7 linked regions of the Homo sapiens genome follow. The protein of the gene in region 3 interacts with the protein of the main gene of each other region in a pairwise test. Each region holds a gene or a part of one and is shown on either strand. Other genes may lie near its edges.

What was found.
Region 1: the proteins of QKI (region 3) and YTHDF3 interact in a two-hybrid assay, tested with the Homo sapiens proteins (one large-scale study listed by BioGRID).
Region 2: the proteins of QKI (region 3) and MBNL1 interact in a two-hybrid assay, tested with the Homo sapiens proteins (one large-scale study listed by BioGRID).
Region 4: the proteins of QKI (region 3) and DEPP1 interact in a two-hybrid assay, tested with the Homo sapiens proteins (one large-scale study listed by BioGRID and IntAct).
Region 5: the proteins of QKI (region 3) and RBFOX1 interact in a two-hybrid assay, tested with the Homo sapiens proteins (one large-scale study listed by BioGRID and IntAct).
Region 6: the proteins of QKI (region 3) and SLAIN1 interact in a two-hybrid assay, tested with the Homo sapiens proteins (one large-scale study listed by BioGRID).
Region 7: the proteins of QKI (region 3) and RBM42 interact in a two-hybrid assay, tested with the Homo sapiens proteins (one large-scale study listed by BioGRID).

What each region holds. Positions count from the first base shown.
Region 1 is NC_000008.11:63,209,954-63,213,286, reverse strand, and holds the end of YTHDF3 (YTH domain-containing family protein 3), read right to left. Parts: 3' UTR 501-3,333; downstream 1-500. UniProt on the Homo sapiens protein: Specifically recognizes and binds N6-methyladenosine (m6A)-containing RNAs, and regulates their stability. M6A is a modification present at internal sites of mRNAs and some non-coding RNAs and plays a role in mRNA stability and processing.
Region 2 is NC_000003.12:152,275,429-152,278,928, reverse strand, and holds part of MBNL1 (muscleblind-like protein 1), read right to left. Parts: intron 1-3,500. UniProt on the Homo sapiens protein: Mediates pre-mRNA alternative splicing regulation. Acts either as activator or repressor of splicing on specific pre-mRNA targets. Inhibits cardiac troponin-T (TNNT2) pre-mRNA exon inclusion but induces insulin receptor (IR) pre-mRNA exon inclusion in muscle.
Region 3 is NC_000006.12:163,417,718-163,421,217, reverse strand, and holds part of QKI (KH domain-containing RNA-binding protein QKI), read right to left. Parts: intron 1-3,500. UniProt on the Homo sapiens protein: RNA reader protein, which recognizes and binds specific RNAs, thereby regulating RNA metabolic processes, such as pre-mRNA splicing, circular RNA (circRNA) formation, mRNA export, mRNA stability and/or translation.
Region 4 is NC_000010.11:44,976,010-44,980,116, reverse strand, and holds DEPP1 (protein DEPP1), read left to right. Parts: upstream 1-1,307; 5' UTR 1,308-1,499; intron 1,500-2,061; 5' UTR 2,062-2,086; coding exon 2,087-2,725; 3' UTR 2,726-3,989; downstream 3,990-4,107. UniProt on the Homo sapiens protein: Acts as a critical modulator of FOXO3-induced autophagy via increased cellular ROS.
Region 5 is NC_000016.10:7,711,432-7,713,840, forward strand, and holds the end of RBFOX1 (RNA binding protein fox-1 homolog 1), read left to right. Parts: 3' UTR 1-1,909; downstream 1,910-2,409. UniProt on the Homo sapiens protein: RNA-binding protein that regulates alternative splicing events by binding to 5'-UGCAUGU-3' elements. Regulates alternative splicing of tissue-specific exons and of differentially spliced exons during erythropoiesis.
Region 6 is NC_000013.11:77,753,187-77,756,686, reverse strand, and holds part of SLAIN1 (SLAIN motif-containing protein 1), read right to left. Parts: intron 3,485-3,500; coding exon 3,329-3,484; intron 1-3,328. UniProt on the Homo sapiens protein: Microtubule plus-end tracking protein that might be involved in the regulation of cytoplasmic microtubule dynamics, microtubule organization and microtubule elongation.
Region 7 is NC_000019.10:35,632,036-35,635,110, reverse strand, and holds part of RBM42 (RNA-binding protein 42), read right to left. Parts: intron 2,176-3,075; coding exon 2,110-2,175; intron 2,035-2,109; coding exon 1,859-2,034; intron 1,425-1,858; coding exon 1,092-1,424; intron 856-1,091; coding exon 738-855; intron 1-737. UniProt on the Homo sapiens protein: Binds (via the RRM domain) to the 3'-untranslated region (UTR) of CDKN1A mRNA.

The sequences.
Region 1 (3,333 bases), on a different chromosome or scaffold from region 3:
GTTTTGACAACACAAAACAATTCTGTAATTTTCCTATCTGAACAAATACCTTAGATAGAGAGCCCAGCAATAATCAGTGCATCACCCAGAGTTGCCATGATCCTATCCACATAAACTATCAATCCCAAGAGGTAATGCAGACAATGTCAGAAAAACATTCCTTGGTACCAAGAGTGGGGGATTAGGATTATTAGCTGCTGCCACTATTTCCTCCTGCTACAAAAAACAAACAGGCCTTCTCTTTCTCTTTTGTTCTAAACTTAGTATTAAAAGCATGTAAGTCAATAAGCTCCTTGGAATGGATAAAAAATAAGGTAAACTGTTACCCTCCCTCTGATTAACTGCTCTGTTTAATTTAAAGTCAACCAGAAGGAGTGATATAATCTATTTGTACGTGAAAGATATGTCAATCAGGAAATCCATAACAGAGTAGGCAAAAATGTTACGTTTTCTGGCAAGCAATACATATTCATGAAGATAAAATGGAAAGAACACAGATATGAGTGAACAATTTTTATTGAAACCCTCAAAGATTAAAGAGGACCAAATGGTGAGTTTGGGTACCATAACAGAAAATCTCACCTAACTGTACCATCATTCACAGGAATGAACAAACCCAAACACGACAAAATTCAAATTCTCATGTAATTGCTACAAGTGAATGTAAATGAACTAATCATTTTATCATAACCTTCCTTTAATCATACGAAAAAGGGAATTTACATGGCATAACAAAAGATATGCAAAACTTAATGAAAACACAATTCTCTTAAATTTCTTAAACTTATTTTTAAAGGATGCAGAATGCACTTGAAATGATTAAATGACTTAAGCTGATTCATTTTTTTTTATTGCAAACTGTTTTAACATCAGCTTAACCCCCATGCACGGTATTCAAAAAGAACACAGCTTTCGAATTAGAAAGATCACTTAAATTAAAAAGAGAAATTAAGTACTAAAATTAGGAAAACGCTGGATTTCTTTTGAAAGGAATCTTCAAGTACCAATACGTATAGAGAAATACTAATTTTGGTTACAGTTTCCTCCTTACTGTTAAATATACAAACTATAATACCTTTCAAAATAAAATACCCACATAAGATAGCTTTAATAAGAAATATTCAAGCCAGAACTTGGAAAAACATTAAGCAAGAAATTTACTGGGCTGATAATGTCTTAATTTGTGATCATTCAAACATTTGATGATGTGTCTCCTCTTGTAGACCCCAGGCTCTCTCCCTTTTGGTCCCCACAGTTAAGAGACATTCAGTTGGTTGTGCTTGAGACAACCTGTGATAATTTCATTCAGAGGAAAAATATTTTGCAATATAATGACAGACCAAGAAGGAAGAGAAGGTGGGTGCTCTGGAGAAAACTTATATGAGAAAAACACAAAATTATCACTTGAAAATAAAAAGATTTTTTTTTCCAAAGGAATGCTGCACCCATTTCACTTAAGATTAGAAATCCAGGTTAAAGGCACTGGGATGTACTCCTCACCATGAATAGACTCTCAATTACATTTATTCGCATGTCTGAGTCTATTGCAATCAGCCTGCTTGCTGAGTGCTTCCATGACACTCTTACATAAAAACCTAATGTAAATTAAACATGTTTGAAACCGTTTATAATGTAACTAGTTTTATAAAAATATCCAGAGTTGCTAATAAAGCACCAAGAAAAAGAGAACCTCAGGGGGAGGACTCAGATCCTTCCTACAAGGTCACCCTTTTATAATATTCTCTAATAGGACCTCCAGAATGACAACAGTCATCTTTGACATGTCCTACCTAGATAATCTTAGGGATGTAGAACATTGCTGTGGTGACTATACCCAAATGCCACTTTTCATTATAAATAGTTAAGAGACATGTTACAAGATTTCATGGCTTACTCTTAAAAAGGTAAAATAGGTGCAATTTTCCTTTAAGAAAGTCTTTATTTTATAATATACCATTAATATTTTGATGTTCCCTTCAGTAAACACTGATATAACTACACTGGGACTACCGAAGAACTGTGTAGTAGCTATGGTTATCTACAAATACTGTATTTTTTTCACTTGAATACAGTATTTGCACATTTAAAAAAAACATTGTACAAAATAAAATTATATAAATGAAAGCCTCAAAGAAATATCCATCACTAGGTCTTTGAGCTGAAGTGACCAAAGACCACAGTAAATGAAAACATTTCTAAACATGATGTAAACATAAATGAAGTAATGCAAAACATCAAGGTATTCAAATCTACTGTATTGCTATTTTCACCCTTAATGTATCTTTCTACATAGCTTTCTCCTTTTGGAACAGTAATACATGGGGCAGTACATTATTTTCATAACCTTATGCCATCAAATCAATTAATACAGATGCTTGACACATTTAATTATACAAAATCAATTTGCTTCAAGATACAAAATTAATGTTGATATGTAATTAATGAAAAAAATAAGATGTTAAAAAGATAACTATAAGAATATCCAGATATATGCTGTATTCCCACTTATATAGATCTGATCAATAAAACATCAACACATTCACTTAGATACTGATTTAATCCATGGATCAAGGCCATATTTTCAAAGTATTTTAAGGATGCCAGGACACTGCAAAAGCTGGAGAAAAGAGCTGAGGAACAACATATGCTTGCTAAACAAGAACTATGTTTATTTAGCTAGTGAATACCTAGAGTAATAAATTTTTACTTCATGATAGCAATCAGGCTCGCAAACACCCAGAAATAGGAATTAAGGGTTTTAAATGTAGTTATAAAGGTCATAAAAAGTCTGATTAGACTGAGGTACATTTACTCAAAATTTTGAGATTCATTAAGTGGTAGCAAACAAAATAATTCCTCAGACAAATGCACATTTTTCAGTATACATATTAATGGGGGGAGGAGGGAAGAAGAATGTGCATTAACTGGTGAAATCCACCAAGCTGCATATCAATATTCTGTTACACCAAACAGTTTGAAGACAAGGGAAATGTTCTAATATAATTTCAGATTATGTTTCATTTGGCTAAAATAGAGCTTAAGGTTGCTTTGCCATATTAAAAGTTTACTACAATAATTTTTCACATCAACATTTAGACTTGAACTCCAGGACTAAATATGGCATGATTATTTTGCTTTTAATCTGTCAAATAGCTAAAAATCGACAATTTAAAAACTACAACAAAGAAAAAGTTGAAGCAGTGTGACTCTTACATCATTGAACCACTTCTAATGGTTAACTGTTAGTATTTAACAAATTCAAAGAGTTAATGAATCCTTGCATTCATTCAGTCTTCTGTGCCTTAGCTAGGATGCATAATTACAAAAGACAGC
Region 2 (3,500 bases), on a different chromosome or scaffold from region 3:
CTTGCATTAAGTTTTCAAGTCTTTCTCCTCAACCCAATTGTATGTCAAAGAAGGAAAGACACTATGTAATTATACTTTCGATCTCCCTCTTGTGACCTACTACAATCCTTTGACTTTAAACGTGCTCAGAATATGTTTGTTAACTGATTATTTAGCAAAACACAAAAGATGAATTCATTCCTCTATGACCTGATTGTTAACATGGCAAAGTAATGTTTTAAGGGAAAAGACCTCAGCACTTAGTAAACTTTAATCAACTACAGAGGAATAGGCATAATACTATTCTTCCTAAATTAATTGCTCCCAATAAAATATTTACTTTTAAAATCTCAGTCCTCAAAACTATATCACTCTGAGAAAGTCATTTCCCGTAGGCAATTTTCAGCAAATGTGGTCCCCCAGAAAGCATTATGCAGAATTCTACTTGAGTATATTTTTTCTAAAGTCTTTCCTATTGAAGGAAAAAATATATATTTTTCTATTGTTAGGCACTTCTCAAATTATTTTTTGGAAAGGTCATGCAATGCTTCAGAGAGACTACTCCTGGATCAAAGATTTTCTTGTATCCTCCGTCGTTCACTTTTGCTATGCTTATCAAACCTCTTAAAAGTCTTTTGGAAGAGGTACCTAAGACCAAATGCCTTATCTGAATGCCACTAGGTAGACAATGCAGTTTTTCCTGAATGTTACAGCAATGAAGTTCAAATAATGGCTCAAAATACTTTGGAATAAATTTGTCTAGTTAAAATTAGCCCAATGACAGAATAATAAAGAAGGCAAAGAATATCCAATACTACTTAATCTTAGTTACTTAAAAATTAGCATTTTCTAAGCATTATCTTAATGACATAGCTAAATAGATTTTCACCATACTGTATAGCACAAGGCAAAAACTAGATAGGAAAAAAAGTCTAATAATAGAAAAAGGCATGTAATAAGTGTGACTTTCACATAATACTAACAAAGGCAAAATAAAATACTGTCAACATTATTCTCTAGTTTATAGAAACATGCTATATTTAAAGACATAAATAGTGTAATTTCTGTATTATTTTTATGGACACGGGCAATCTAAATAACTAATAAGTTGTAAATATTTATAAATAGAATATTTTTCTTGAAAACTGTCTTTATTTCATGGGAATTTTTCTCTGTATATTAAATAAAACATAATCTATCAATGTTCTGACATTTTCTGTTTAAACTATTTTAAACCATTTATTTGTAAAAAGCTTGTAAGGTCCTCAAACTAAAAAGACATGTAAGTATTCCAATAAAGCTTTCTATTCTATTTGAAATATAACTATCCTCCTACTCCAGATAACCATTAACCAAAAGCAACTGTTTATTGATTCCTGTATGTAAATCATTCTGTTTATAATAGTGACTGATTATTAAGGATTTTTAGTTCCAGGAAAAAGAATGCCCTGGTTATACTGATACCTTCCCTAAAATAGCAAGGTCTGAGAAGTATAAATGTCAGCCACATTGAGCACATGGCAAACTTGTTTTATCATGTATCTATCTGCCACCTTGTTTATCACTAAGGATAGGTTACACAGGCATTCTGAGCATGGACTTTAATAAGAGAGGAGAACTGCCTGGTTGACATTGAGACATTTCTCAGCAAATAACAAAATAGGCCTAACGTTGAAATTATGTTTACTTTAAAATTACCAATTTGGGACAAAGAATTTGGTGACCTTTAGATCACCATCCAGTGCTTTGAAAGAGCTTAGCACAGAAATGAAATGTTTTAAGAAATTAACATGTATCTTCTACTTAAGTTATAATCCCTGATAAAATACAATTTTAAATGTTTTTCACTTACTGATATTTTATATAATTCTTAAATAAGGAATTTTTGATTGATTAAAAGTTTTTTAAATTCTTGCTGTATTTTAAAAATAATTGTTAATACCCCCATTGCCTTTAATATCCACATCCAGTCAGCTGGTACATCCTATGCAGCCTAACCTTATCACATTTCTCTCAGCATACATGTCCTCCTTTTCATTCTAGGGCCACTCCCCTCATCTAGTCCCTCATCTCTGTTCTGTATAACCACAATCTCTACTTCATTCTATATGTGTCCTACCCCTATAAAATGTCACCAAAACACAACTCCTGTAAGGTTACTACCCTAAACACCAAGTGTCTGTTTATGTTCCACACTACGTATTATTAAACTTACTAGCTGGTCATCAATGACCTCAAAAGTGTAGCACCAATCTCCCTTGAACACCTGATTCCTCATTTCTTCCTATCCTATTAATGCTTCCCACCCCTCACCCCAGGCCTTTTCTCTCTATCCTCTTACTTTCTGCCCATTCTTCTGGAATCTCTTCAAATGATGTAGAAAGTACAAGTCTTTTAAAGTATTCCAAACGTTTATGTTCTCAAGCTCCTATCAGCATCCAAAATAAGTATTTTTAAAATCTGTTTTTATTCTTTTACACAGGAGCATGGATTCTAAAGCTGGGCTACCTTGGTTCAACTCCTTATTGTGCTACTTATTAATTAAGTACCTTTGCACAATTAATTGGACTTGTCTGTGCTTCAGTTCCCCTATCTGTAAAATCAGAATATTAACAGTACCTATACCATAGGGTTGTTCTGAGGAATAAATGAATTAATTATAAACCTTAGCTTAGCACACAGAAAGTATTCAAAGATGTTAGTAATCATAATTACAGCTATATTCTCATCGCTATTCTTTATATATAATCAGTGGAGGCAAGACAAGAAAAATTGGTTAAAAACATGAACATTGGAATAATAAAAATGACAAGCCTCATATCTCCGCAAATGAAAAAATTGTTCTAGTCATGATCTTTAAGGTAAAAGTCTTATTACTTTACGGCTACTTTACAGTAGAAAAGATTAAATGAGATACCTTACTTAAAAGAATACAGCCAGTGGCAACTTCTACTATTTTCATAAATATTTACACCTTTATAATGTCACAGATTTAGAAACTAGGGCATGAAAAGAGTAAATGGTTTTTCCCCAATCTATTGTTTCTTTCAAGAAATAAACAAAAAAACTTAGTTACTTCAAAATAAGTATATTAAAATAATAATAATATTGATATCACTTCTTACATTTACAAAGGAGTTCCACTTTTAGAAACCTCATGTATCCTCTAATGAGGTCCGTTTTTGTTTTTCTACCTGCCTGGTATAAACATTAGCCTTTTTTTTTTTTTTTTTTTTTTTTTTGAGACAAGAGTCTTGCTCTGTTGCCAGACTGGAGTGCAGTGGCATGATCTCAGCTCACTGCAACCTCCGCCTCCCGAGTTCAAGCAATCCCCCTGCCTCAGCTCCCAAGTAACTGGGATTACAGGCATGCGCCACCATGCCCAGCTAATTTTTTGTATTTTAGTAGAGACGGGGTTTCACCATGTTGGCCAAGACGGCCTCAATCTCCTGACCTCGTGATCTGCCTGCCTCGGCCTCCCAAAGTGCTGGGATTACAGGTGTGAGCCACTGCACACAGCC
Region 3 (3,500 bases):
TGACATGTTTTTAAGTTGTTTTTAAGAAAACATATAAGTGCCTTTTCCTCTAAGGGCACAAAACTATCAACAATCACACAACTGCTTCATTTCTTAAAATTATTAGACAATATTTCTAATGTCACTTTCAGATTTTCATTTTTTTTTAAACCATGTGCACATACCCTATCTTTGAGAAACTAGAAATCAAAAAAGGAGGTAAGATGTCAACATGTTTAATTCAACAAACATCTGAGAAGTGTATGCCAGGCTCTAAGGTAGGCACCTTCAAGAAAGTAATTTTAAGAGGGCAGACAGGTAATAATATTCCAATGCTAACTATAATGATCACTCCATAGAAGGTAGTACCTAACACAGACTGGGGTTATAAACAAATTTCTTAACAGTCCCACTAAGATAACAAACTATATTCACCATAAAAGTTTATTGTTAGTTGTGATTTTCTGTTAAGTAAAAAATATAACTGTAAAACACGAAATAATCTAGCTATTGTGGGCCCAAAACTTTTTTAAAGGGGTATAAATATTCCCTAAAAGTTATCATTAAGGGTAAACAACACATTATTGCACTTAAAATTCACATTAAGCTGTCTTAATGTCAAACACAGGAGGGACTGGAGAAAAAAATGAAGTCCCGTTGATCATGTAAATAAAAAGCTGGTATATATCTGTGTGACCTCCTAACATAGGCCCACTCACCACTCCCCATCCCTTGGCCTTAAAATAGAACCTTGGATATGTTCATAACAGCTGACATACCAATAGCAGAAAGTTGCTCAGTGGGCTGCCTTTTAAGTTATCAACAAACAAAAACCAACAATGTCACAGCATTTTCCATCTCCAACAGAGAAGGGCAAGTTTTGCTTACAACTGCAACATCAAACAAATAAATCAAACAAATGTATTAGCTACACCGAATTTCTCAAGTAAATTAAACTGTAGTTCCAGTTTATAAAAAGTTGCTCCTATGATCACACTGGTGTAATTCCCTTGATATAAAAACCAAACCAAACCATAAAAAAAAAAAAGGAAAGAAAAAAACCACCAAAAAAAAAAAAAAAAAAGAAAAGAAAAGAAAAGCCCTTACATGTCTAAGTATATTGGCCTCAAAAAAAGAATCTGAATCATGCTTCGGTGAAGGCCAGGTCAAAGCATGAGGGTTTTATTATACTTCACTTCTTTCATCACAGAAATCTATTTCCCTGAAAAAGGAAACCAAAAACCATTTGCTCTTATGGGAAACTGACCAATTTCAATCAGCTCCAGGACAGCGACAGTGACTAGTGAAGCATTAACAGAAATATAATGTGCATAAAGCATTTAAGAAGTCAAATTAACTTGATTTAACTTGACATTCTCAGTCATTTAAGAAAAAGTGTTCATCCCAAAATACACTCGTAAATGTGACTAGCAAAGAGACCTATTTCTATCAACTCAACTGTGTTACAGTCGGATACAACTTTTACTACAAAACATGTAAACTGGATACAGTTTCCAAAGGAATCACGTTCCACCTACAGGGGAATTTAGCTTTAAAAGTACAGAATGAATGTTTAATAAATGCCCCATAATGATACAACTGATCTTTTCCGTGACTGCCAATATATAGCTGCTGACACCTCCTGGGTGAGAAAAGATAATGGAAAGAAGTGATTATAAATAGTAGCTTCCTTCTTGCTACAACTAATTCAAGGACTGTGTACAAAAGCAATATCTTAGTTTCTAAAGAACAGATTATTTCACCTTAAAATCTGTTTGTTACAGATGATGATTACTGACAACAGTAATTGCTTCTTCAGACAAAAAGAAAACCTTTTTGTAAGAAATCTGTATAGCAAGAGTCCTCTCAATACCAACCACCATATAATTCTTAAGTCAAGGCTTTTGTAAATGAATTCTCAGGAAAAAAAAAAATTATGGTAAGAAAACCTTATGATACATCCAATAACAGAGGCAGAAGAAGTGAAAATAAACATTAACATGAAAAAATAGCAACTATTTAAGCAAGTTTTAACGAAATATTTTTACTCATATATTTAAAGGAGAGGGAGCAGGCAGGGTATAAACTAAACTGAGGTCAGACAGAAAGTTTACTGTAAACACAAAAAGACCATCAGAAAATGAAAATATATTTTCAAATCAGTAATACGGCATTCTAATCCATCTGCTCTCTTTTTCTGAGCCACACACTAATTTTTCTGATATCCACGATAAAAAGATTGACTGTTCTTCCTCATTACACATTTTTTATTTCCCTATCAGCAGCTTTAAGCCCACCTCCACCTAAAAAATTGAAAACTCAAAATCAGCTTTTAAAATACTAGTTCTCCATTTTCCCCTAATACAGGATTGTTAAGTCTAATAGACCGTACTCTTCACCTTCTCGATTCTAAATTACAAAACTTTATTATAACAATTTGCATTCAACTACTGTTGTTTCATTCTCATGACAAGAAAAGTCTGTTTTTTTAAAAACCATATATTAACTGCTCTAAGGGTTCAGTTGAAAACGTCTCTCTAAAGGTAGAGCAGTTTAAGACCTAGGTTTTATGTGTAATCCTATAATCATCTCTATCTTCAATAAAAGGTTTCAAACTCAAGTTTATGTCCTTTATATTTTATGATGGGCCCAACCTAAAATGTATTCACAACTTTAAAAAACAACCGTGTTGAAGATACTTCAGTGGAAGAGCTGGCACACACACCCCCACCACCAGCAACAGCAAAAAACAAAACAAAACAAAAACAAGCAGTAAAACAAAAGGACTGTCCACAGTCAAGATACAGACTAAAGGTTAACTTGGCAAGGAATTAAAATACTCATTCTAAAACATCCAAGTCTTCATCAACTGGGAAAACCAGCACACTTAATCCTCAAATTTGTAACTAGCCAAATGGAAATTCTTAGGCTGACAAGCATATTTTTAAAAAGCTTATTCTTTGAAAAATATTTTAAAATAAAAAATTTAAAATCTCATTTAAAATTCCTAATTATCAGAAAATACATCTACTCTAAGCACGATGTTAACTTCATCAAACCAATCACTAAAGTAAAATTTTTACTAAATTTTATCTAAATTTAAAAGTAATTTTTCAGCCAAGCATTATAGGCAAAAAAAAAAAAGTAATGCCTAACCAGAAACAAAAGTCATGATCAATTTGTTTTGGACAATGACAAACCACAAAGGGGTAAAGCACAAGATGCCAAATTTCACAATTAAATCATCCAGAAAAAAAAATGTGATGGACTTCAGAAACCAATATTTTTCTTAAGTCAAATTAAGTTTATAACAAGGCTAACAATTACAGGAAGCCGCTTATTCCACACTAAGGAATAGCCCTTTTTCCTGCATGTTTGTACTGGTCTGATAAAAAACAATCAAACTTCCTCGTCATTATATTGCCCATTTTAAACATACTATATGCCACACAGAAGCAATCTTTACACTGGGGAATTGACAAGGCTAAAACTAAAGATAGCAAGACAAGAGATGGAGTAAA
Region 4 (4,107 bases), on a different chromosome or scaffold from region 3:
GAGCTCAGGCTTGGGCTAACTCTCAAGACTCCTCTTTCTCCCCCACCTGCAGCACAGGCAGGCGTGTTCCAGGTGGGGCTGTGGCTGGGGCAGAGGATCTGTGGCCTGTCTGGGGAGTGCAGGAGCTTCCCAGGGGCTGCCTCTCTCATCCTTGGCAGCCTCCTTTGCTGGCATGGTCACTCCTGGACAGATGCAGTGGCTTTCTAATGTTGCCCAGGTGCTCCTTGGCAGCCCCCCAGCCCCAGCCCCAGCCCAGTCCCAGCAGCTGCAGCGATCCTTTGAAGCAGAAGCCAGACTGCAGTGCCCTTGTTCAAACCCTGCAGTCTTTCCCTCCCTCCTAGAGGGAAACACAGCATCCACCCCAAGGTCCACTGACCCCCTCCTACATGGGCCAGTCTGCAGGCCCCTTGCTGTGCCCTGAGCATGTCTGTCCGGCGCGCCCTCACCACAGGGGCTTTGCACGTGCTGCCCCTGCCACCTGGAATGTGCATTTTCCCATTTTTTTCAGGTTTCTGCTCCAATATCTGCTCTTAGGGAAGACACCCCTGACCACTGTACCTGTGGCGGCAGCCCACCACAGCATGCCACTGCGCTGCTTTCCTTCAGGCAGTTCTTGCTGTTGCCTGAATCACAGCACCCATTCATCTCTGGCTTGATCTCCTCCCTTACTAGAATATGAGCTCCAGGGGGCCACACCTTTGTCCGCTGCTACGTTTGCTGTGCTTAGTGCATTCACAGCACACACTAGCACCTCATATCTGGTGAACAAGTAAACAAACAAATCCTCCGAAAGCACCCCATCTGGGGTGTAAGAAGACCAGGGTCAGACCCCGCAGACCGCCCTTGGTCCCTTGCGAGCAGGGTGTGTCTCTCCTAGGAGCAGGCCTAGGGACCCAGCCTCAGCTGCCTCCAGACTGGGGTCCTGTGCTGCTGATTTTTCATCAAAGTTGCCAAGGACCTGGCCCAACTTCACAGGAGTCATGATGGGGTGGTGTAACACAGAGTGGGAAACAAGCTTTGGGGCAGGGGTGGCCCTGGGGCTACCTGTGAGGGCCCAGTGGAACCCCTCCCTCTCCCAGTGCCCCTACTTGACCAGCAGTGAACCCACCCCTTTCCTGCCCTGCAGCGTAAACATTCCCCAGCCTCCTACAGGCAGAAAAACACCTCCAAGCTGGCAGCTGGGCCAGGCCCCGCCCACCAAGCTGTTTTCCTAAGACAGCCTTCCGAGCAGGCTATTTTTGGCCCTCGTGACAGTGATTGATAGCTGCTGGGAAGGTATAAAAGCAGCTTGCCTGCGAAGGTTCTTCACACTGCTCAGGGAAGAGCCTGCTACGGTGGACTGTGAGACTCAGTGCACTGTCCTCCTCCCAGCGACCCCACGCTGGACCCCCTGCCGGACCCTCCACCCTTCGGCCCCCAAGCTTCCCAGGGGCTTCCTTTGGACTGGACTGTCCCTGCTCATCCATTCTCCTGCCACCCCCAGACCTCCTCAGCTCCAGGTAAGAGAGAGCAGCTGCCCTTGGGTTTGAGACAAAACACAAGGGCTTTGTTTATTTTTGAGGGCAATTCCCAGCCTGAACTTGCACAGCCTCCCTATGGGTTAGAGACCAGGGCTGTCTGTAGAGGGCTTTGCATTTATAAAGGGATTCAGGGGTTATTTCATGCATTTCCTACAACATCCCGGCCAGGGGTATTTATAACCCTGTTTTATGGATGGGTAAGTGGAGGCCTGGAGAGGTGGCCTTGCCAAAGGTCCCATGGTCAGTGCGTGGCCGATCCTGGTTTTAAACCCAGCCTTCCTCTGACCAGTGTTTGTTAGGTTAGGTTCTCTTATCTGTGCACATTCTGAAACGATAATGATAAAATCTTAAGCCTTTGGGGTTTTTAACCTGAACAGGAAGAAAAGATCCCAGCAGTCGGAGCTCTGGTCTGGGCTCTGTAGACTTCAAATTGCTCTCAGGGCACCGGATTCCTACAGGCAGCCCCAGAGGAGTGTGGTGACGCTGAGGGGCGGTGGGACGCATGGCAGGCCCTCACCACCAGGCTTCTGTTTCCCAACAGGTTGCCACCTCCTCTCGCCAGAGTGATGAGGTCCCGGCTTCTGCTCTCCGTGGCCCATCTGCCCACAATTCGGGAGACCACGGAGGAGATGCTGCTTGGGGGTCCTGGACAGGAGCCCCCACCCTCTCCTAGCCTGGATGACTACGTGAGGTCTATATCTCGACTGGCACAGCCCACCTCTGTGCTGGACAAGGCCACGGCCCAGGGCCAACCCAGGCCACCCCACAGGCCAGCCCAGGCCTGCCGGAAGGGCCGCCCTGCTGTGTCCCTGCGAGACATCACCGCACGTTTCAGTGGCCAGCAGCCCACACTGCCCATGGCTGATACTGTGGACCCCCTGGACTGGCTTTTTGGGGAGTCCCAGGAAAAGCAGCCAAGCCAGAGGGACCTGCCAAGGAGGACTGGCCCCTCTGCTGGCCTCTGGGGTCCACATAGACAGATGGACAGCAGCAAGCCCATGGGGGCCCCCAGAGGGAGGCTCTGTGAAGCCAGGATGCCTGGGCATTCCCTGGCAAGACCACCGCAGGATGGGCAGCAGAGCTCTGACCTAAGAAGCTGGACTTTTGGGCAGTCTGCCCAAGCCATGGCCTCCCGCCACCGCCCCCGCCCCAGCAGTGTCCTCAGAACACTCTACTCGCACCTCCCGGTGATCCATGAACTCTGACCCCTCCCCAGTAAAGGCTTCTGTAGAGAGCATGCTGGGTCTGCATCTCCTCTCGTCTCCTCCATGGTGGTCACTGCCCCTGGCAGGTCTCTGAAAGGGAAATGCTTTTCTGCAGAGGCCCCTGCTTGGGCAGTTCACAGTGAGACCGACCCCCTCTGAATATGATAACAGCCTGTTTCACATGAGGAGATGTTACCAATCCCGTTCGCTCTGACCCTTGCTGGCTGATCACCTTGAGCAACTTACTTAACATCTGTGTTCCTCAGTTTCTCATGGGTAATATAGGGATAATTACTGGCACCTGCCTCCCAGGCCATTCTGACGTGTAACCGCATATAGGAGCCCACTGGCTGAGTAGCTACCATCATCGCTGGTGGGGAAACTGGTGGTAGGGGTGTGAGGGTAGTGGGGGTGTCAGCCCCCCAGGTGTTTCAGAACAAGGCCTCGGGCACTCCCAAGTCTGCCTCTTGGCTCCCACCCTCAAAGCCCATGTTCTGTGAGGCCCAAGAGAACACATGGAGTCTTAGCAAATGCACTAATGTATTCCGGGGGACTGTCACCTGGCACCACTGGGGCACTCTGCTGGCTACAACTCATACGTCCTGTGGTGGCATTGGGAGAGTTCCCCCATGATGAGGGCCAAGATAGAATCTGTACCACTCAGTGCTACCATCCCCACCCCTACACCACTTCCACACAGGGGCCTCATGGCATGGTCAGGGTCCCAGCTGTGGGTGAGAGCAGGGCACTGTCCAGCTGTCCACTGGGGAAGTCAAGATGTCCTAAGGCCCAGGTCAGGGCATCTGGAGTCTGAAGGACCCTAGTTCCTAGAGGCATCTGGCAGCAAGAAGGTGAGGCATCAGGGAACGGGAATCAGGCTGGGACTGATCAGAGGTGAAGGGACAGAGAGAGGAGAGGAGGAAGATTGAGCTGGGGGCAACAGCCAAGCTCACCTGGGCAGGTCTCTGCCACCTCCTTGCTCTGTGAGCTGTCAGTCTAGGTTATTCTCTTTTTTTGTGGCTATTTTTAATTGCTTTGGATTTGTTAAATGTTTTCTGTCTTCTGTTAAGTGTGTTTTCTCTGGAGATAGAATGTAAACCATATTAAAAGGAAAAAGTTTCAGACAAGCAATTACCCAGTTTCCTTATCTATAAAATGGGGACATCAGCAATGTTCTTCACACCCTGCAAGGGCTGGGAATCTGCGCATGTGAACTTGGAGCTGCATTTATGAGCACTGTAGACAAATGTTTGTATCTGTCACAGCCCACTGTGTCTCTGTGGTGGTCTCAAACCTGCAGGTCCCTGACTTTGGGCAAACGTGTGGGGCAGCCTTTAGCCGGGGCAGCCTTTAGCCAATCATCATCCTCGGGAGAGATCCAG
Region 5 (2,409 bases), on a different chromosome or scaffold from region 3:
TAACCAGTCGCTATTTAGGAAAAAAAACCCACTAGTTAGGCCATCAACAAGCATTCTTTTTATATTTCTTCCAGTATAATAAATTATTGATATCACTGCTGACTTTTATATTATGGGAGGGAAAAAATAACATTAATAAAAAGGTGATAAAAAAGCACTGTTTCTATTTTTTTCTTTTTTTCCAAAAAAAGAAAGTAATAAAAACTTAAATTCTTTGTACCAGTTAAAAAAAATGTATAAAATTTACATCTGTGCAGTGGAGTTGTTAAGTTCTAGAAACAGTCTATGAAGCTTTAGTTTTAGCCTAGTAGAACAACTGTTAGAGACAGACGTATAATTTTTATGGAATTACATGATAATCATATTCGGATTTATAGAAGCATTTTACAAGTATTGCAATCATTGAGTAGAGATAATCATGGTATTTTCATCAGCTTGGTACTTTTTGAAACGTGACTGCGTTGTGTGAACAATCTGCAATTTTTCAGTCCGTGAGATCCTGCCCTTCCACCTCTTTCCCATACCCCCAAGGATTATCTCAAAATGATCTCTTTAGTTCTGTCTCCAAGGCCCAGGACACTTGTCAGAAGGATGCAAAAAAAGAAAAAAGTACATCCACCCTCTTAATCCCAAAAGAACAAAGTCTCCCCACCTTTCTCGGATGCAGGGCCAGAGTGACACAGCCGAAAAATTGCAGTTTGTCTGTACTTCTGTTTGAACTTTCCACGTTGTCCTGTTTACAAGTTAACTTAAGTTGGGGTATCCGTCACGGGTCTTCCTGTTTTGTATTTAAATAAAAACAACAGCAGCAGGCTGTCCCTGAGTAGTTTTGCTGCCATAGGTTAAGTCCTCATGTGTACAGTGCAGGCCCTGTGGCCCGCACTTCAGTAAGTTATCAACTCTCACCGCTGTGAACCTGCCAATCCGCTGTAACAACTCTGCTTTAAAACAAAACCAAACAAAACTTTAAAAAAAAATGTGTGATCCAGCTTTCTCTTGCCATCCTATGTGCATGCCGTAAGATCAGTTGGATATTAAACCATCAATAAAGTTTCACAAGATTTGAAAACAAAGTTTCTGTAGCTTCGATACCTAAGACAGACGATAGTGATCTTGAAAAGAGAAAAGGGGGAGGGGGGAGCTACTTATCAGCCAAAAGCATATAAAGTGTTCTTTTCACCAGACTTCTTTGGGTGGGTGAGGGGAGGGGCAAGAGGGTGTTTTATAGCATCACTAAGACATTCTCATTCCCCCACCTGGAAAACAGTGTTATGGCAATGGGTGCCTGGTTGATGTTCTTAAAGGAAACGAATTATTAAAACACTATGACATCCTCCAGAGGGAAGAAAGAGTAGGAGCAGGGGGCTATGGAGAATAAATTTCTCCCAATTGCCGCCTCAGATTTCAAAATCCAGAATTTGTATTGTGTTTCGAATCACAAACATAGAATTCTTACTGTGTTGGTTAAAGTAAAATTCATTTGCAGTTTTGATTTTCATCAATGAGCTGTACTTTCCCCCATGACTGTATGTAGTTTTAATAAAATCATTTAGAGTGAGTGAGTGCCAACCGATGTTGCAGAATCTTTTGTCTAGGCACTCCAAGATGCCAATAAGTCATTTTAAAATGTATGTCAGAGATGTAAACAAACATTTTGGATTTTTTTTAAACAGTATTTATTTGGAATGTTTTCATTTATCTAAATAACTATTGCTATTATGAATTATGGAAAATTAATATTATGTGTGGCATATAGTGACTTCTTAACACACACATCACGCAATCTGCAAACCCAGAAAATGTGTATATCTGTCTTTAGAAATTAGTGTTTATATCACTTACAGTGGTTTGTGAATAAAGAAAACTGGTTTGTAATATCAAAAAAATAAAAGCTTAGTCTGAAAAGGTACAAGTTGGTGTTCTGAGTTATTTGGCTTCCATGGGTTTTCTCTCTCAGTGGGTAGATTTGTTATCCACAGCTGTGATTGCACTTGGGCCCGCCCGGGGATGTGGGGTGGGTGTTGCCCAAGTGAGCAGGAGGCTGCCCTGGCCACCAGTAGACCAGATGCCTCCTGCAAGTTCCCTGCTTTTCTGGATTAAAATCTTTCCCTTCCTCACTCATTTTCCCAAAGAAGTCAGTGGAACTCACCCTGGCTGTTTAAGAAACTGAACTAAGCTTAGCTATCTCCTAGCATGGAAGTATCAAGTCTTCAGTTTAAAACAAAATACATCACTCATCTTAAATATGTTTGAGCTATTAATTACTTTTTGGGACACCTCGGATAAGATGAAAAAAATATAGTAAGTGCTAGAGTTCACATACATTGAGTGCTCATTAGGAGCCAAAAATCGTGTGTTCCTTATTTAAAAATCAGGGTTGAACTGTCCACCCCATTTAGTTACTTAATA
Region 6 (3,500 bases), on a different chromosome or scaffold from region 3:
TGATGACAGAAAGCTAGGTTATTTCTAATTTGGGGTTTTATGAACCTCCTTGAACATGTTTTGGTGATCATATGCACTCATTATGTTGGGTAACTATTAGGAGATATTAATTTAGCAAAGTTGCTGGATTCAATATCAAAACACAAAAATCAATTATATTCAAAATACCAGCAAACTAGTAGAAACTGAAAGAAACCTGAGGAAATACTATTTATAAAAATACTACTTATTAAAAATCACAATACCTAGAAATTAATTTAACTATAGAAACATAAAACCTCTATATAGAAAGCTACAAAACTTCACTGATATTAAAGACCTGAGTCAATGGAGGACTATTACATATTAATGGATGCAAAGACTTAATATTGTTAAGATCTTCCAAAAATTGATCTGCAGAGTCAATGAAATGCCAACCAATTTCATTTGAAATGAAATTACAGAACAGTTTATTCAGGAATAGAGTCCTACTATCTCTCCTACATGTAACATATATAACCACCCTTGATTTAAAAAAAAACACATAAGAGAAACTAGTTAGAATTAATAGGCATAATCCTAATTTTACAACTGAGAAAACAAGACTGAGAAAGAATACTTAACTTTCCAAAGAATTTATGATTAAGAAAAGACCCAAAACCAGGTCTTTGACTACAACTGTGTTCCTCCTTCTATACTTGCAGCCTTTCCAACTCTCTATCCTACCTCTGTTCTTTCCAGAAAGCAAAATGGCCCAGAACCAGAAATTGTCATGATAGGAACTTAGAATGCATAAAGAACAGTGGCTTAGAATGCTCAGAAATGAAAGTAAATGAGAACATAATCTTAAGATTTGAAACAAAAGTTATGAGAGTCCTCCTTCTCCTACACTTTAATATTCTTCTTGGGGGCTTTCTCTCAGTATTATGCTTGACTTAGAAATGATGATTTTTATATTTTCCTCATTGCTTTTACACGCATGAATTGGAATCTACTACAAAGAGGATGTTCCCCTCTATTTATCCAATTAAGTATGAACCCATGCATATTTATTTTATTCCATCAGTTATAATCCATTACTATAATTATTTACTCTGTGGCTCAAACTGCCCCAAATTTGGCCATTAGGAGGTTCCTTCAACTTGGTTCCTGTATCCTTTTGACATTTTCCCGTCATTTTGGGGGCACTTCAATCAAGGCTGAACATTCTTTGCAGTGTACATTCTATTTTGGGCTACATACATTTTTCTGGCACTCAAATCTGCTACTAATACACATTGAGTTGGAGTCAACAAAAATTCCTAATTGTTACTATATTTGCTATTCTCCAAACTGTATTTCTCCCCTCCCACACTTACACTATTGATTTTTTTTTTTCTTTTTTCAAGACAGGGTCTCATTCTATCTATTGCCCAGGCTGGAGTGCAGTGGTGCAATCTTGGCTCACTGCAGACTCAACCTCCCAGGCTCAAGTGATCCTCCTACCTTGGCCTTCCAAGTAGCTAGGACTACTGACATGTGCCACTATGCCTGGCTAATTTTTGTATTTTTTGTAGAGACGGGGTTTCATCATATTGCCTAGGCTGGTATGTTACTGATTTTTGTAATTCAGACATAGAATTGTATATTTCTATCAGCTAAATTTCTTCATGATACATTTGGCCCATTCTCCTAACCTCCTGACATAAAATGAGTTGTTAGTCCTCTCGGTTTCTACTATTGGCAAATTTCATAGGTTGTTTATGTGTCCTTATACAAGTCATTGGTTCTAAATATTTAATAGGTCAAGCCTTAACATAGAATCCTGTGGCATTCATTCAAGCATTCACTGAGAGTTCCTTATGTTCTGGCAATACGTCAGGCACTGGGAACAGAAAATCAAATAAATGATGGCCCAAGCCCAGAGGGAGCTTACAATCTAGTAAGGAAGACAAACATATTAATAGTAAAACATGGTACATTGAATAACAGAGGTAAGCACCGAAAATCTAATCCACTCTAGTATTGTTTGGGGGGTATTTGAGAAAGTGTGTTAGGGTGATTAAGTAAGCAATGAAGACTTCCAAAGGCATGGTATTTGGACTGTGTTATAAAAGTAAATAGGAGTAAACTGAACGAAGAAGGAAAAGGAAGAATGCTAGGCAGAGAAGAACAGCACGTGGAGCTAGAATATGATAGCAGTTAAAAGCTCTGGGAGTAACCAGACCTAGGTCTGCCTCTCTGCTCTTCCAACTGTATGGCCTTAGACAAACTGTTCCTTAACCTATCAGAACTGTTGCCTCTTCCACAAAATAAGAATGGCAGTAGAAACTAATTCATAGAGTTGTTGGTAGAACTAAATAAGATAATGAATATAAACTAGTTAGCACAGTTCCTTGTACAGAGTAAATGATGTCACTTGGTTGTTAGGAACTAAAACATAAAGAAATGAAAGATCGCTGCATGTTAGGGAGATACAACCTGACACCTAAAACTAAGTTTGAGGGAGAAAAGCTACAAACCATTTTGGATGCAGACTTAAAACATCCGGTTGACGACTCTTGGCCAGTACACTCAGAACATGCTCAGCCTCCCAAGTTTGGGCATTTTTATGAATACTGGTAATATAACCTTGTGCCTTCCTCCTGGAAGTCAGTGTAAGACTTAACTGCAACAACCCATATAGACAGCATGAGTAGGAATAGGGGGATGCCGAAGCAGCACATCCCCACATAAAGTGAAGATACACAGCACTAGGCCTAATGCTAACTGTGTCACTCACTGCTGGGTAAAACATAGAAAGTAAGTAACAGAATGTGGGGTAAGCTAAATAGAGTGGACAAAAACTACTTTAGACACTCTAAAATATAACTTCATTTAGGGGGAAAAAGACAAAAGTATGCATAGGTGAAAAACAAGACAAAAGGAACGGCTAAACAGAATTAAGTGTGCTTATTCAGGTAGACAGCTAGAAGGAGGAGGATCTGCAAGGAAAACAATTTTTGTATGATGAGTGGATAAATCAATCACCATGTAGTACTTCTACTATCCTAGGATATAAAGGACTACAAATAATTTACTATTATTATACAAATAACAATTTACTATTATTAATTGATACCACAGGCACTGGTAAGTAATTTATACCACAGGCACTGGTAAGTTGAATAGTAAATATACTATTTGAATAGTAAAAATACTATTCAACTCTAATGGTGAAATAAAAAAATAAGTTACACGGCAAGGAAAAAAGTTTAGTGTTCTTTCAAGTAAATACAAAGAAATAAAACAGACATTTTCCTTACAATTAAAAATTATAAAAAATTATACAATTATACAATATATAATTATATCAAATAATTATACTCACTACAAGATTGTATTCTTGAAATTCCATTTCCAGCTCCATGCAAGCTTGAGTCAAAACTCTGACTATTTCGCACGGTGACCGGAGAACTAATGTTGCTACTAATGGCAGTTGTACTTGGCATCCGGGCTAGGTTAGGCATACTTCTTCGGAGCTTATCTGGAAAAGAATTTTA
Region 7 (3,075 bases), on a different chromosome or scaffold from region 3:
ACTCCTGACCTCAAGTGATCCACCTGCCTCCGCCTCCCAAAGTGCTGGGATTACAGGTGTGAGCCACCGTGCCTGGCCAAAATATCTCTTTTCTTAGGAGATAAATACTGAGATATTTAGAAGTGATTAATTCACTTATAACTTGCTTCAAATGACTGAGCTAAAAACAAAGAAACCAGATACATACACAAAGAGGAAAAAAGTGAACACAGCAAAATGTTAATTGCAGAATCTAGGTGGTGGGTAGACGGGTGTTTACTGTGCCATCTGTGTTTAAAATTTTTCCCGGCCAGGTACAGTGGCTCATGCCTGTAATCCCAGCACTTTGGGAGGCTGAGGCAGGAGAATCACTTGAACCTGGGGGGCGGAGGCTGCAGTGAGCCAAGATTGCGCCACTGCACTGCAGCCTGGGCGACAGAGTGGTACTCTGTCTCATAAAAAAAAAAAAAAAAAATTTTTATCCTAAGAGTTGGGAAAAAAAAAGAATGCTCTCTGAAGCCAGGCACCTCATGAGTAAAACAGGCTACAAAGCCCCATGTCCCCGTCACCTCCACCAAGCTCCGGCCCATGGCTAGGTGAAGAACCAGCCCCTGAGCCATAGCCTCCCCTCCCCAAGGTGGGCTAACAACAGCGCCCACCCTACTGAGAGGGTTCACCCTCCCAGTCTGCAGCCCAAGGACAGCAGCCTGGTCTGACCTTGGCCGAGCCACGCCTGACCTCGAGCTTCAGCAGCTTACCTGCATCCCACTCCAGCAGGCTGGGGTCCTCCCAGCTGCTCCCTGCCGCTGTGCGAATGCACCGTTTCAATTTCTCTGGCTTCCCCTTCTTCTTGTCTTCACCCAGGGGCTCTGGGACCTGCAGAGGAAAGGGGAGAGGTGCAAAGGGGTTGGTATTGGGGTCTCCCACTGTCCTTTGGTCCCCGGCCCTCCTGCCACCACAGTAAGGGCTGGATGTGCTTCTGGATGTGGGGCACATGTGTCCGCCTCCCTCCCCCAGGTCCTCCTGCTGTCCGGTCTGTCTGTGTGGAAGTTCCTGGGCTCCTGTCTGCCCCCCGTCCCTTCTGTCCCTTCACCGCTAGGCTCCCTGCTTACCTCAAGAGCCATGAGGCCTGGGGGTGGCTCTGGCCGAGGGGGCCGGGGCCGAGGACGCAGGGACAGGAGTTCAGGAATGCGCAGCGGGGGCAGGAGGCCGCGGACGACCTCCAACGGGAGGGGCAGGGGCTCAGGCTCGGGCAATGGCATGGCCAGGGCCAGCGGCAGGCTGGGCCCAATGACTGCAGGGCCAGCTGGGGCACCTCCTGCCCCCACGGCCACAGCCGCGCTAGCCTCCTCCAGCCCAGCCGCCGCCGCCACCACTGCCTCTTCCTTCTCTTTCAGGCCCAACCCCAGGCCTAGGCCCAGCTCTCGGGGTGCTGCTGGCTCTTCCTGTGGGTAAGAGGAGAGCATGAGGGGGGCCGGCTCACAGGCTCAGACTTTACTGTCATCTCCATTCCATCCAACAAAGAAAGGGCCTGGGGGCCAGAGAGCAGCCAAGAGACACCCAAGCAGAGAGTCTCCAGCCAGACAAACACAGAGAAGGAGAAACACAGGCAGAGAGAGACAGCCACAGACAAGAACATCAGTAACAATCAAAAGAGAAATATTCCAATAGCATGTTTCTCTCTGTACTCCCTTCACAAAAGGAGAGAACAGATTTTGCCACAGAAAGATGCAGAAAGAGACAGAGACAAAGGCAGAGTGAGAAGGTAGAGAAACAGAAAGTCAGGAGAGAGGCCAACTCAGACATAGCCCATTGGGCCAGGATGGATGGTCTCCCCGTCCACCGCACATCTGACCGTTAGTTCCCTGTTCACACTCACCAGAGGGGGCCTCAGTGCAGCCATGGAGCCCAGCGGGGGCCCTGGAGCCCGAGCCATTGGTGGCAGCATCATGGGTGGTCCAGGGGGCCCAGGCAGAGGGGGGCCCACGAGGGCCTGGTGAGGGGGCCGTAGGGCCATAGGGCGGGGGCCGGCTGCTGCAGAGGAGAGAGCGGAATCTGTCAGGGTGTTAGTGGGGAGTTCCAGGGCCTGGGGGGAGTTATGTGGCAGGGATGATGACCCTGGCCCCTCACCTGCTCTCTGTAGCACGTGGGGGACGAAGGCTGGACGCAGGATAGGGGCCCTCTGGGGGGCCACAGCTGTGGGAGAGAGAGATGGGGGTGTGTGTCATGGGGGACAGGGGCACTTGGGACAAGGTGTGTGTGTGCATGCGTGTGTGTGTGTGCACTCTCAGCATCAAGAAATCCTGGAGAAGAGTCTGGGGAGCCCTCCTGGAGATGTGGGGGCCTCTCCCCTGGTTCATTCCATGAAAATTTACCACTGAGAAGCTCCTCTGGCTCAGCCCTGTGGCAGGCAATGCTGGGGACACACCAACAGACCCAGGGTTCTCAGGGAGCTCCTGGTCCAGAGGAGGAGGGAATGGAGACATCACTAGAGAAGGAGAGCCAGTGGGGACCAGCGCTGGAAGCAGGGAAGCCCAGGCAGTGGGATCAGTGCTAAGAGAGGGGAGCCCTCTGACCCAGCCAGGCCCAGGGAAGGCTTCCTGGAGAAAGGGACCTGTGAGCTGAGACCCAAGGGGCAATGAAGTGTTAGGCAAGGGGTGAGTGGGAATATTATTGGCAGGAAGAATATTTATAAGCAAAACCTTTCCCTTTTCAGTTTAGTGTAACTGTAATAGAAGTAGTGGGGCTTAGAGAGTGTCATGAGAAGGGCTGAGCAGCCAGCAGGCACCCCAGTAGAGCTTTTTTGTTCTTAAAGCACAGCATTCTTGGCTGAGCCATGGGTGTCCTCCTGAGGGCACTGGGGAGCCACAGCAGGGTTGGAAGCTGGGCAGGGGAAGTAGGTCAGATTTGCATTTTGATCAAAACCATACTAAAAAGTAAGAGACATTACAACTTCTCAGAGATCATCAGATTAATAAGTATAACAGGATTTAGGTAACATAAGTAGCACGTTTGGTTTAACCGAGATTATACCAGAATTTTACATCCAAGTAAGAACACGCATCCTTTTCATACATATAAGGAAGTAATGTCCTA